Homo sapiens: one gene and its partners. The protein of the gene in region 1 interacts with the protein of each later gene in a pairwise test. Each region holds a gene or a part of one and is shown on either strand. Other genes may lie near its edges.

Evidence for each region.
Region 2: the proteins of GRIPAP1 (region 1) and ARL15 interact in a two-hybrid assay, tested with the Homo sapiens proteins (one large-scale study listed by BioGRID and IntAct).
Region 3: the proteins of GRIPAP1 (region 1) and CCDC187 interact in a two-hybrid assay, tested with the Homo sapiens proteins (one large-scale study listed by BioGRID).

The regions. Positions count from the first base shown.
Region 1 is NC_000023.11:48,985,177-48,988,825, forward strand, and holds part of GRIPAP1 (GRIP1-associated protein 1), read right to left. Parts: intron 3,023-3,649; coding exon 2,945-3,022; intron 2,702-2,944; coding exon 2,609-2,701; intron 227-2,608; coding exon 92-226; intron 1-91. UniProt on the Homo sapiens protein: Regulates the endosomal recycling back to the neuronal plasma membrane, possibly by connecting early and late recycling endosomal domains and promoting segregation of recycling endosomes from early endosomal membranes.
Region 2 is NC_000005.10:54,111,425-54,115,073, reverse strand, and holds part of ARL15 (ADP-ribosylation factor-like protein 15), read left to right. Parts: intron 1-1,663; coding exon 1,664-1,872; coding exon of another isoform or gene 1,873-1,959; exon of another isoform or gene 1,960-3,639; intron 3,640-3,649.
Region 3 is NC_000009.12:136,252,016-136,255,664, forward strand, and holds part of CCDC187 (coiled-coil domain-containing protein 187), read right to left. Parts: coding exon 3,642-3,649; intron 3,120-3,641; coding exon 1,579-3,119; 3' UTR 1-1,578.

The DNA of each region.
Region 1 (3,649 bases):
GACTCCAGTCTTCCCACTCCACCTTACTGGGGACTTCACTGGGCCATTACTAGGGAACTAGGAAGAGACAGGCCAGAGCCAAAGGTGTTACCTGGAGCTGGGAGTTGAGGTCATCTTTCTGTCCCATAAGGTCCTCGTACTCAGCCTGCTGCTGCTGCAACTCAGCTGCCAGCCCAGTGGTCTGTTCCCGGAGCATATTCAGTTCTTGGGTCTTTGCTGTTTGGATCTGGAGAAAGTAGTGGTGATGAGAAGTAGAGTGAAAGGGACCCCAGGGGCCAGGGACAGGGTATGAGCCCCCTAGTTCCAGGGAAACAGGGAGGGAGGTGGGAAGAGAACCAGGAAGAGAGAGGAAATTTCAAACAGAAAAACAATGAAGAGAATGGGTAAATGTGGTATGTTCATACAATGGAATACCACACAACAGTAAGAGAACAGATCTGTGCTGCCACGTGGATAAACTTACATAGTGCTGCCAGAAAGAAGTCAGAGACAAAGAGCAGCTGATTCCATTTATATGAAGTTAAAGAACAAGCGAAATGAATCTTATGTTGCTAGAGATCAGAATAATGGTTACTTCTGGGGGAGTACTGACTTTGAAGGGGTAAAGGGGACCTTCTGGGGTACTAAAAGTGCTTTATACTTTGATCTGGGTGGTGGCTATGGTGGCGGGGAGAGAGAGAGAAAAAAAAGAGAGAGACGAAGAGAGGATTCACTGAGTGTACACTTAAGATTAGTACATTTCATGCACTTTACTAGAGAGAAACTAGAAACAAAGAAAAGCAGAAGCCGGGCGCGGTGGCTCATGCCTGTAATCCCAGCACTCTGGGAGGCCGAGGCGGGTGGATCATGAGGTCAGGAGTTCGAGACCAGCCTGGCCAAGATGGTGAAACCCCGTCTCTACTAAAAATACAAAAATTAGCTGGGCATGGTGGCACACGGCTGTAGTCCCAGCTATTTGGGAGGGCTGAGGCAGGAGAATCGCTTGAACCTGGGAGGCGGAGGTTGCAGTGAGCCGAGATCGTGCCATAGCACTCCAGCCTGGACAACAAGACCGAAACTCCGTCTACAAAAAAAAAAAAAAGCAGAGATAGGCCAAGCACAGTGGCTCACACCTATAATCCCAGCACTTTGGAAGGCCGAGGTGGGAAGATAGCTTGAGGCCAGAAGTTTAAGCCAGTCTGGGTAACATAGTGAGACCCTGTCTCTACAAAATAATTTTGTTTTCTCTTTTTTGAGATGGAGTCTCACTCTGTCACCCAGGCTGGGGTGCAGTGGCACAATCTCGGCTCACTATAACCTCCACCTCCCAGGTTCAAGCAATTCTCCTGCCTCAGCCTCCCGAGTAGCTGGGATTACAGGTGTGCGCCACCATGCCCAGCTATTTTTTTTTGTATTTTTAGTAGAGACGGGGTTTCACCATATTGGCCAGGCTGGTCTCGAACTCCGAACCCCAGGTGATCCGCCCGTCTCAGCCTTCCAAAGTGCTGGGATTATAGGCGTGAGCCACTGCGCCTGGCCTAATTTTTGTATTTTTAGTAGAGACAAGGTTTTGCCATGTTGGCTAGGCTGGTCTCAAACTCCTGATGTCAGGTGATCCGCCCACCTCTGCCTCCCAAAGTGCTGGGATTACAGGTGTGAGCCATCATGCCCGGCCAATAAGTTTTTTTTCGTTTTGTTTTTTGTTTTTTTGAGACAGAGTTTCACTCTTGTTGCCCAGGCTTGAGTGCAATGGCACGATCTCGGCTCACCGCACACTCCACCTCCTGGGCTCAAGCAATTCTCCCACCTCAGCCTCCCGAGTAGCTTGGATTACAGGTGCCCACCACCACACCCAGCTAATTTTGTATTTTTAGTAGAGACGGGGTTTCTCTATGTTGGTCAGGCTGGTCTCGAACTCCTGACCTCAGGTGATCCGCCCTCCTCGGCCTCCCAAAGTGCTAGGATTACAGAATTGAGCCACCATGCCCGGCTTTTTTTTTTTTTTTTTTTTTAGACGGAGTCTCGCTCTGTTGCCCAGGCTGGAGTGCAATGGCACGATCTCGGCTTACTGCAACCTCCGCCTCCTGGGTTCAAGAGATTCTCCTGTCTCAGCCTCCCGAGTAGCTGGGATTACAGGCACACACCGCCACACCCAGCTAATTTTTTGTATTTTAGTAGAGATGGGGTTTCACCGTGTTGCCCAGGCTGGTCTTGAACTGAGCTCAGGCCATCCACACATCTTTGGCCTCCCAAAGTGCTAGGATTACAGGCATGAGCCACCACGCCCTTTTTTTTTTTTTTTTTTTTTTGAGACAGAGTATTGCTCTGTCGCCCAGGCTGGAGTACAGTGGTGCGATCTCGGCTCACTGAAACCTCTGCCTCCTGGGTCCTGGTTCAAGCAATTCTCCTGCCTCAGCCTCCCCAATAAAATTTTTAAAAGTTAAAAAAAAAAAAAAGTAGGGATGGATGGCCAGAGAGAAGAGGGCTGGACGCCAACAGAAAGGAGCAACAGAAACAAAGACAGGAGAACAGCATGGGGTCCAGACCACCCTACCCTGATGTGGACCAGAAGCAGATGGAGATGGGGGAACTGGAGAGGGATCAGCAAGGGCCCCCAGGTGTTCTTTACCTGCTCCAGGGCAGCCAGGCTAGTCCTCAAGGCATTGTTCTCAGCCAAAAGCCCTTCCACTTGTTCCTGTGCATCTGCACTCTGGATGGATACCTGGCCCCACGTCCACAGCAGGTGAGAGTGGGTCCAGAACAGGGGGACAGGACCTACCCACGACCAAGAAAGAAAGGACACACACACACACACACACACACACACACACACACACACACACACACACACACACGAAGGCCTGGGGGAAGCAGGATCCCTGGGACCTTGCCTGACTATGTAGTACCCACTCAGGCTGCCCCCATCCTGAACCCCAGCTCCCTGAGCCCACGCAGTACAATATACCTGATCTTGTAGGGCCCGCAAAGCTGCTGCATGTTCCAGGCGCTCCCCCTGCCGCTGATCTCTCAGCTCTGCCAAGCTCTGTGGAGACCAGGGGAGCCCATTTTACACCTCAGCCTCTCCTGGGGTGCATATAACCGTACAGACTCTCTGTTTGACCACCCAGCAGCATGTTCTCAGCACCTGTGGGTCTCAGACTATCCAGCCAACAGCAATCTCAGGTTCACCCAGACGCCAGGTCACTACCCTCAGGGGCCTCAGACACAGTCAACCCCTCTATCCCAGCGTACAAGATCTCAGGCACGACTAGACTCCTGGCCCTAGCTGCTACGCGGTTCAAACTCACTCAGCTCCCATCCATAAGAAGTCTCATGCTCACCCAGATTCTAGCTTGGGAGCTCCAGGATTCTCAGACACAGTCAGCCCCATGGATCTCAGATGTAGTCAGCACCCAAGGATGACAGTTTCACCCAGCCTCCCAATCCCAACCACCAGGGGTTTCAGACACACTCATCTCCCACGTCCCTACTTCCCAGGTGAGATCCACCCAAACTCATAGTCCCAGATCCTAGAGGTCTCAAACTCACAACCTCCTAGTTTCCAGGTCCTGGTGAACTCTCAGACTGACCCCTTCACCTGTCACTCTGCTCCCCAGTCTCTTGGAATCTTCAGACCCAGTTAACCACCAGTTCCTGGGGGTCTCAGCTT
Region 2 (3,649 bases), on another chromosome or scaffold:
CAAGCTACCAACAGGATGTCACTGAGCACAGAGTTGGGAAGAGAAGCAAACAGGTGACCCTTGCCAGCCAGGGCACACCAACTGCAGTCCCCACTGTTTCCCTAACACATAACAATATGTCAAACATAGGAGCTAGATGTTCAGTGGATGACTGAAATACAGTTATTAACTGGTTAGGACTTGATCATATGCAATAAATTGGTGAAATTCCTTGAAATCTAATTGTCGTTATATAACCAGTAGCACCCCTTTCCTACACATGCACACATATTGCCCCTCCTATTCTTGAATGAAAGTGATGAAAACAGTCACCATGATGTAATGGGAAGTGCCTATGCCTTCCCTGGGCAGGTTGTCTGCTAACTCATGCAAATCCCAATTTTGTGATTTATTAGATACATGACAAGGGATCACTTACTTTACCTCTGTCTGCCTCAGTTTCCTCAGAGAGTTGGACTAAATCATCTCTAGAGTTTGTTCTAGTCTCAAATTTGTAAAGCTTAATTAGTATATAATTTTACTCCCTCATTCCCTCAATTTTCATTATTCCAGTACTGAACTTTGAGTTAGATGTTGTGCTATATAATGGAAATACAAAGAGGAATACTACATGACATGCCTTGGCTGATGAGACTCTCCATGTGGTGTTGCTTTTTTTTTTTTTTTTCTTGAGATGGAGCCTTGCTGTGTTGCCCAGGCTGGAGTGCAGTGGCGCGATCTTGGCTCACTGCAACCTCCACCTCCCGGGTTCAAGCGATCCTCCTGCCTCAGCCTTAGCTTCCCAAGTAGCTGGGATTACAGGCACCCGCCGCCACGCCCGGCTAATTTTTGTATTTTTAGTAGAGATGGGGTTTCACCATGTTGGCCAGGCTGGTCTTGAACTCCTGACCTCAGGTGATTCACCTGCCTTGGCCTCCAAAAGTACTGAGATTACAGGTGTGAACCACCGCGCCCAGCCTCTCCATATGTTTGTTTGTTTGTTTATTTGTTTGTTTTAATAAACATCTTATCTCATTGAGATCATAAGTGTACACCTGTTGTCTGTTATTTTTCCTCATGGGTTATGAAGCCAAACAGAATCATGTAATTGTATCAAAGGCCATGATTTTAGTTTTTCACAAACTTTAGCACTTTGACACATAAAGCTATTGTGCTAATAACTCCCTAGGTGAAATTAAACAAGGCTGTCCTGATCAGCAAGCAGTTCTGTTAAAAAAGTATCACCAAGCTAATGTTAATGGTTTGGAAAGAAGCGTTGGTGGATGTCTAGGCCATGCAGCTCTCTGAGGCAGGTTCAGTCTCAATTTTTAGAGAGTGTGTAGTTCATTTGAGATGATTAAAGTCTGAAAATATCCTTTTGAGTTTAAGTCTAGGAAGTATTTATCCTGGTTCTCTCACACACATTTTTATATAAAAGTCATTAAGAATGGCTTGGATTTTGTGTCTTCCTTCAAGGCCAAATCTACCTATTGGCTCTACTGCCTTCTTTGTTCCCATCCACTGTGATTTCTGCCTTTTCTAAATTCCTGTTTTAATCCATACCACAGAGTTTAGCACTTAATTTTTAAAAGGTACATTGGTTTCCAGTAGGAATTACTGTTGGGAACATTTTTCAGTTGCTGAAAGCTCTTTTTAAAACGAAAATTTGTTTTGTTTTTGACAGGGGCTGATAACATCCGGAAATACTGGAGCCGCTACTACCAAGGATCTCAAGGGGTAATATTTGTATTAGACAGTGCCTCTTCAGAGGATGATTTAGAAGCTGCTAGAAATGAGCTGCACTCAGCTCTTCAGCATCCACAGTTATGCACTTTACCCTTTTTAATATTGGCCAATCATCAAGACAAGCCAGCAGCTCGCTCAGTACAAGAGGTATGTCTCATTAGCATGACAACTCTTTGTCTTCCTTGCTTGTACTTTTGCTGCCACGTTGGAACCTGGAAAAATGCATGTAATTAGGAATGTGCTGGTTATGCTGCTTTCAACATGAAACCTTAGTTTTCATAGGAAGCAGAAAGCCTATATCAATCTGTTAGCACTTGTTTACATACCTAACCCTACTTGGAGAGCACAGAGTTTTCTAGCTATTTAGCAATGGTTAAAAGATGTTTCTGGTTATATTTTTCATCTATTTTGAGGGGCTAAAGGCCTGGTTATTTAATGTTGTTTTAACCTGTGGACTTAGTTCATTCTCTTCTTCAGCTTTTCTAGGAACATATCGTGAGTATTTCCATGCATTACTCGCCTTCAGGTGTCATGTTCTTGTTCCTCTGAAGTGTTCAATGTTGACTAGGATTAATGGATCCTATTCTGTAATCTGCTAGGCTGAAAATTGATGTCTTGCAAATTCCATGCCATCAAATACATTTTAACATGGAACCAATGTTTATCTTCCTCATTTAATTTTATTTCTTAGCTTGTATCTCTCCTATAAAAGCATGAGACTAATTCTAGGCAAATAGAGTCTCAGCCAATAGAGCTTGTGATTCATGGTACTGCAGTAATGAGATATGTGAATAGTTTTTAAAACTTAAATTATAGTGAATTATAACGTAAGTACAGTGAAATCAAAACTCCTGATGTATTCCTTTATACTTGTAACTTTCAGGATATGATTTCCCCTCTCCTTCAGAAAATTGCATGCTTCCTCAAGTGATTTTGGAATGAGATGATTAATATGAACAATCTTGCCTTTCAGCCTGAAAAATAAATGAGGAGCCAAGGACATAACATGTTCTAACTCCAGACCTCCCTCACACTTAGTGTGTGACCCACGGCAGATAGCCTATTCTTGTGCCTGGCTTCTCACCTCTAAAATGAGAATAATCCAATTTATTATGATAAGTTAATAGGATTAATTTGGATAATTTACTTTGAAGTTTAAACACCTAAGTAGAAGAACCATATAAATAGAGTTTTTATTCAAATTTTAGAAACACAGTTTAAAAAAAAGAAAGGCAAGGACCCATTATTCAACAGACAGAGCTCATGTCTCACTTTAGTTGCCTCATTCAGCATTAAGTACGTAGCACCTTTTAAAGAATAGAGTTTGAAAAATACCTTATAGATAATATTAAGTAATTAAGTAAAAAACAGCAATAAAAATCTATTCAGAAAGTCATTAATGTGAAGATCTTCAGCATTATAATGATGGTGTCTCCTAATGTGCTTTTAAGACCTTAGTTTGTAAATCTTTTAACTTCTCAGCATCAGTTTTTCTGCCTATAGAGTAGATATAATAGTATGTAATGAAGGGTAGTTTATGATTATAAGGTCGTTTGCTGAGAATGCATTGTTATTCAGCTATTCATTCTAAAAAATCTTGTAATATGTATGTGTACACTACTACATGTAGACAGTATAATGTGTGTATGTAATATATACATAATACATATACACATTGATAAAACATAGATATAAGTGCCATTTTAACTTCAGATAACTTTATTCAAGTTATTTGCAATATCTGAAAAAAGATTTTTTCTTTCTGCTTTTAAAGTTATGAACCTGTGTATCTGTTTTCCTTAGACATCATATAATTGAAAGTAATGTATCTTTAAACCTAACATATGACTTATGGTTACCCTCCATAGGAATGAAAGATGATCACATTGAATAAAGGAAGCTTTTAGCAATTAATTGCTTCTGA
Region 3 (3,649 bases), on another chromosome or scaffold:
AGCCGGCCGCCCACCCAGTCCACCCTGGGAAGGTCCAGGCAACCATCCCGCACAGCCGGCCGCCCACCCCGTCCACCAGGGGAAGGTCCAGGCGACCGTCCCGCAGAGCCGGCGCCCACCCTGTCCACCAGGGGAAGAGCCGGCCGCCCACCCGGTCCACCCCGGGAAGAGCCGGCCGCCCACCCGGCCCACCCTGGGAAGAGCCGGCCGCCCACCCAGTCCACCCCGGGAAGGTCCAGGCGACCGTCCTGCGGAGCCGGCCGCCCACCTGGTCCACCCTGGGAAGAGCCGGCCGCCCACCCAGTCCACCCTGGGAAGGTCCAGGCGACCATCCCGCACAGCCGGCCGCCCACCCCGTCCACCAGGGGAAGGTCCAGGCAACCGTCCCGCACAGCCGGCCGCCCACCCTGTCCACCGGGGGAAGGTCCAGGCAACCGTCCCGCACAGCCGGCCGCCCACCCGGTCCACCCTGGGAAGGTCCAGGCGACCATCCTGCACAGCCGGCCGCCCACCCGGTCCACCGGGGAAAGGTCCAGGAGACTGTCCCGCACAGCCGGCCGCCCGGCCGGTCCACCCTGGGAAAGTCCAGGCCTCTAGGTTCTTACTCCCACGTGTGCATGTGTATGCCACACACAGCTCACAATGACATTGTGGACGCCTGTGCACCTCTGTAGTTCCAGAAAACACTCCCTAGGGGCTGCACCTGGGGGCCTGTGTGGAGAGAGCTGCTAAGGAGTCACGCAGGACCCTCCTGGTGAGCCACGTGGAGACCAAGTCCACTGCCTGGTCTCTCTCCACACCTGGGAGATGGGTACAGCGGCCTGAGTCTGTCTCCAGGAGCGGCTTTCTGCCCAGTGAGCCCTCGGGCCTGGGTGGGTCCTCTACCTGGCAGCTCAGGCCTCCCTCAACGTCCTCACCAGCATGCTCAAGGGACCCAGACTTTCCACTGGCGGCCAAGGGCACTTGGCCTGGGAGAGAGGCTGCCGGGGCTGCCAACCAGGGACATGGAGGTGTGGCTGCCTGTGGGGGTGTGGCTGCCTTCCTGTTCTTACCCAGCATTTCTTTGGGGTCTTGGCCCCTGGTGGGGGTCTTGGCCAAGCAGGCTCGGCTGCCCAGGGACCCTGCCGCAGGTGAGGCAGTGTCCAGGAGCTCATCCAGACCCACTAAGAGCTGCCCCGCTACCCACCCCGGCTCTCTGCATGCCCAGAGCTCTGCGCTCCTTCCCAGGGCTCTCCCCGACTGCCCAAGACCTCCTCAAAGGCCACATCAGCCCAGAACCCTGTGCCCAAAACAGGAGCCCAGTCCGCCGATCATCACTTCCACGTCACCAGCTGCCAACAGCCCTGACAGACCTTCCCTGGCCACAGAGGCCACTCTGGATGGAGCTGGGGGCTGCACTGATGGCCCTGGGAGCCCTCCAGGGGCACTGCCTGACCCCTCACACGACGAGTGCCCTGGCCAGCTGACAGGTTCAGGCCACTGGCTGCCTCCGGCCTCATCCCCTGCTGCAGAACTGCATCTACCCAACTGGTCGTCAACGCTTCCACCCGGACCAGCCACCCCTGGGCAGAGCCCCAACTACTGGGTTCCCGCCGACCCCTGGGGCCCAGGAAACAGTCCCTCCGGCAGACTCTCCTCAGACAAGGAGGACAAATCCTGGGTGGTGATGGCGGTGTCCTCCTCAAGGGGCCCCGAGGGCGGGGAAGGGAAGGCATCCGAGCATGGGTTGGTGTCTTCACCATCACTCTGTGCTTGGGGAGTGGGAGGAGGTGGGGGTAGGGGGGCCTCCCTGTGGATGGAGGACGGGAGGTCGGCACTGCCGTAGGACAGCAACTCGTCCACGGGAGACAGGATCTCAGTCAAGACGTCACCGGCAAGTAGGGGACAGGCTTCCTCCAGGACAGTGGGGGCCCCATTCCCACCAGGCCCAGGCGCCCGGCTCTCAGCTACTGGAGGTGCCAGCCTGCCTGGGTCCCCAGGAGGAGCCTGCAGGGTCACCGGGGTCTCGGGCTCTGGCATGAGGTACGGGAGTTTGCTCTTGGTGGATGGGCTCGGGTCAGCATCCCGGGTTCCCTCCTGGTAGCCAGAAGTCTCTCCTCCTTTGCCGAAATCTGCCCCTTCACTCAAAGAGGTCCACGAAGGAAAGACCAGCAGTGAGTCCGAGTCACCGGCAGAAGAGATTTGCAGCGGGAACACCACACCGGCGGCCTCAGGGGGTGCCTGGAGGGCTTCTCCTGTGTCTGACACCCCCATCAGGCTCTCGCTGGTCCCAGAAGCTTCCAGCCCCTCCCCAGGCCATGGGGACGGAAGAGCCACCTGGGGCTCCATGCCGCTTCTGACACCCCCTTTCAGGCTCTCGCTGGTCCCAGAAGCTTCCCGCCCCTCCCCGGACCGTGGGGAGGGAGGAGCCACCTGGGGCTCCACGCCGCTTCCAAGGCCCAGTGAGCCACCTGCAGGCAGGGAGCTCCCCGAGGCTGGCTTGGCCCCGGTACAGGGTTCTGGCAGGTCCTCCTCGCAGTCCTCCTCCCAAACTTTGCTGGAGGCCTCTGACAGCTCTGACCCTGACCTTGGAGAGGGGATGTCTGGGAAAGGCAGTAGCCAGCCTGCCTTTGGGCTTTGCTCCGGCGCTGAAACTTCTGCCATGGCCGTGTCCAAGGAGGAGCCACGCAGGGGGCCGGCCCTGCGGCCCTGGGGCCTCTGCCAGGTCACCCATCCTCCACCCCCAGGAGCACTGCCTGGCCGAGGCTCACCCTGGTTTGACCGCCAGGACAAAGGCAGGCCAGCTTCCCCCGAGGAGTGTCGGGCAGAGAGCTCTCCAGGCCAGCTGAAACCTTCGTCTGGGGAGTCTTCAGCTTCCAAGCTGGGAAGAGAGCTGGAGCTCCCAGAAAGCTGGATCAGGGTAGCCGCTGCTTTCTGGAACTCCCAGAGAGAGGGACAGGACAGGCTGCTCACAGAGCCTGCTGGGGAGGTGTGGGATGACACCGTGGCTTCTTCCGAAGGCCCCCAGCAGGTTCCAGAAGCAGACTCAGAGCCTGGACCGCAGGAGGAGGTGGTGGGGAGAAGGGGACTGCCCTGGTGCAGGATTGGGGGCGCCGCCTCCTCAGGGACCACAGGAGCTGCTAAGAGAGGGGGCAATCAACAGTGGTCACCCTCTGCACCCTGGACCCCATGCATATCCCACGACCCCCAAAGCCAGGAGGTCAGAACAGAGAAACACCCTGAACAGAGGCAGGAAAAGCGTCGAGGGTGCCAGCGTGTTCGACCCTTGTGATTCCAACCCAGGGGTTCACCACGCCCACCCCCACCCACACGCAATGAGTCATGTCCAGGGGCCTTGCCGAGCCTCGGGCACCCGGCCTCATAGCACCACAGCTGTGGTTCAAGGACTGACTGGTTGGCTCTGCCTTGTTTTATTTTCATTAGGGATGTGGGTGGATCCAGACAGAGGATCCCTGACCGTCACTCACCTCCCCTGGCAACCCTGTGATGGGGAGGTGCGTGGGCAGAGCCCCCCAGCTAGGCAGTGGGGAAGGCAGGGGCTGCGTATTGTGGGGAGAAGCTGGCTCTGATGTAGAAATGGCTTGGGGGACCCTTAGTGGGGACTCGATGGCTGAAGGAGGGGCTGGGGGCTGGGGCATTACCTGGGGAG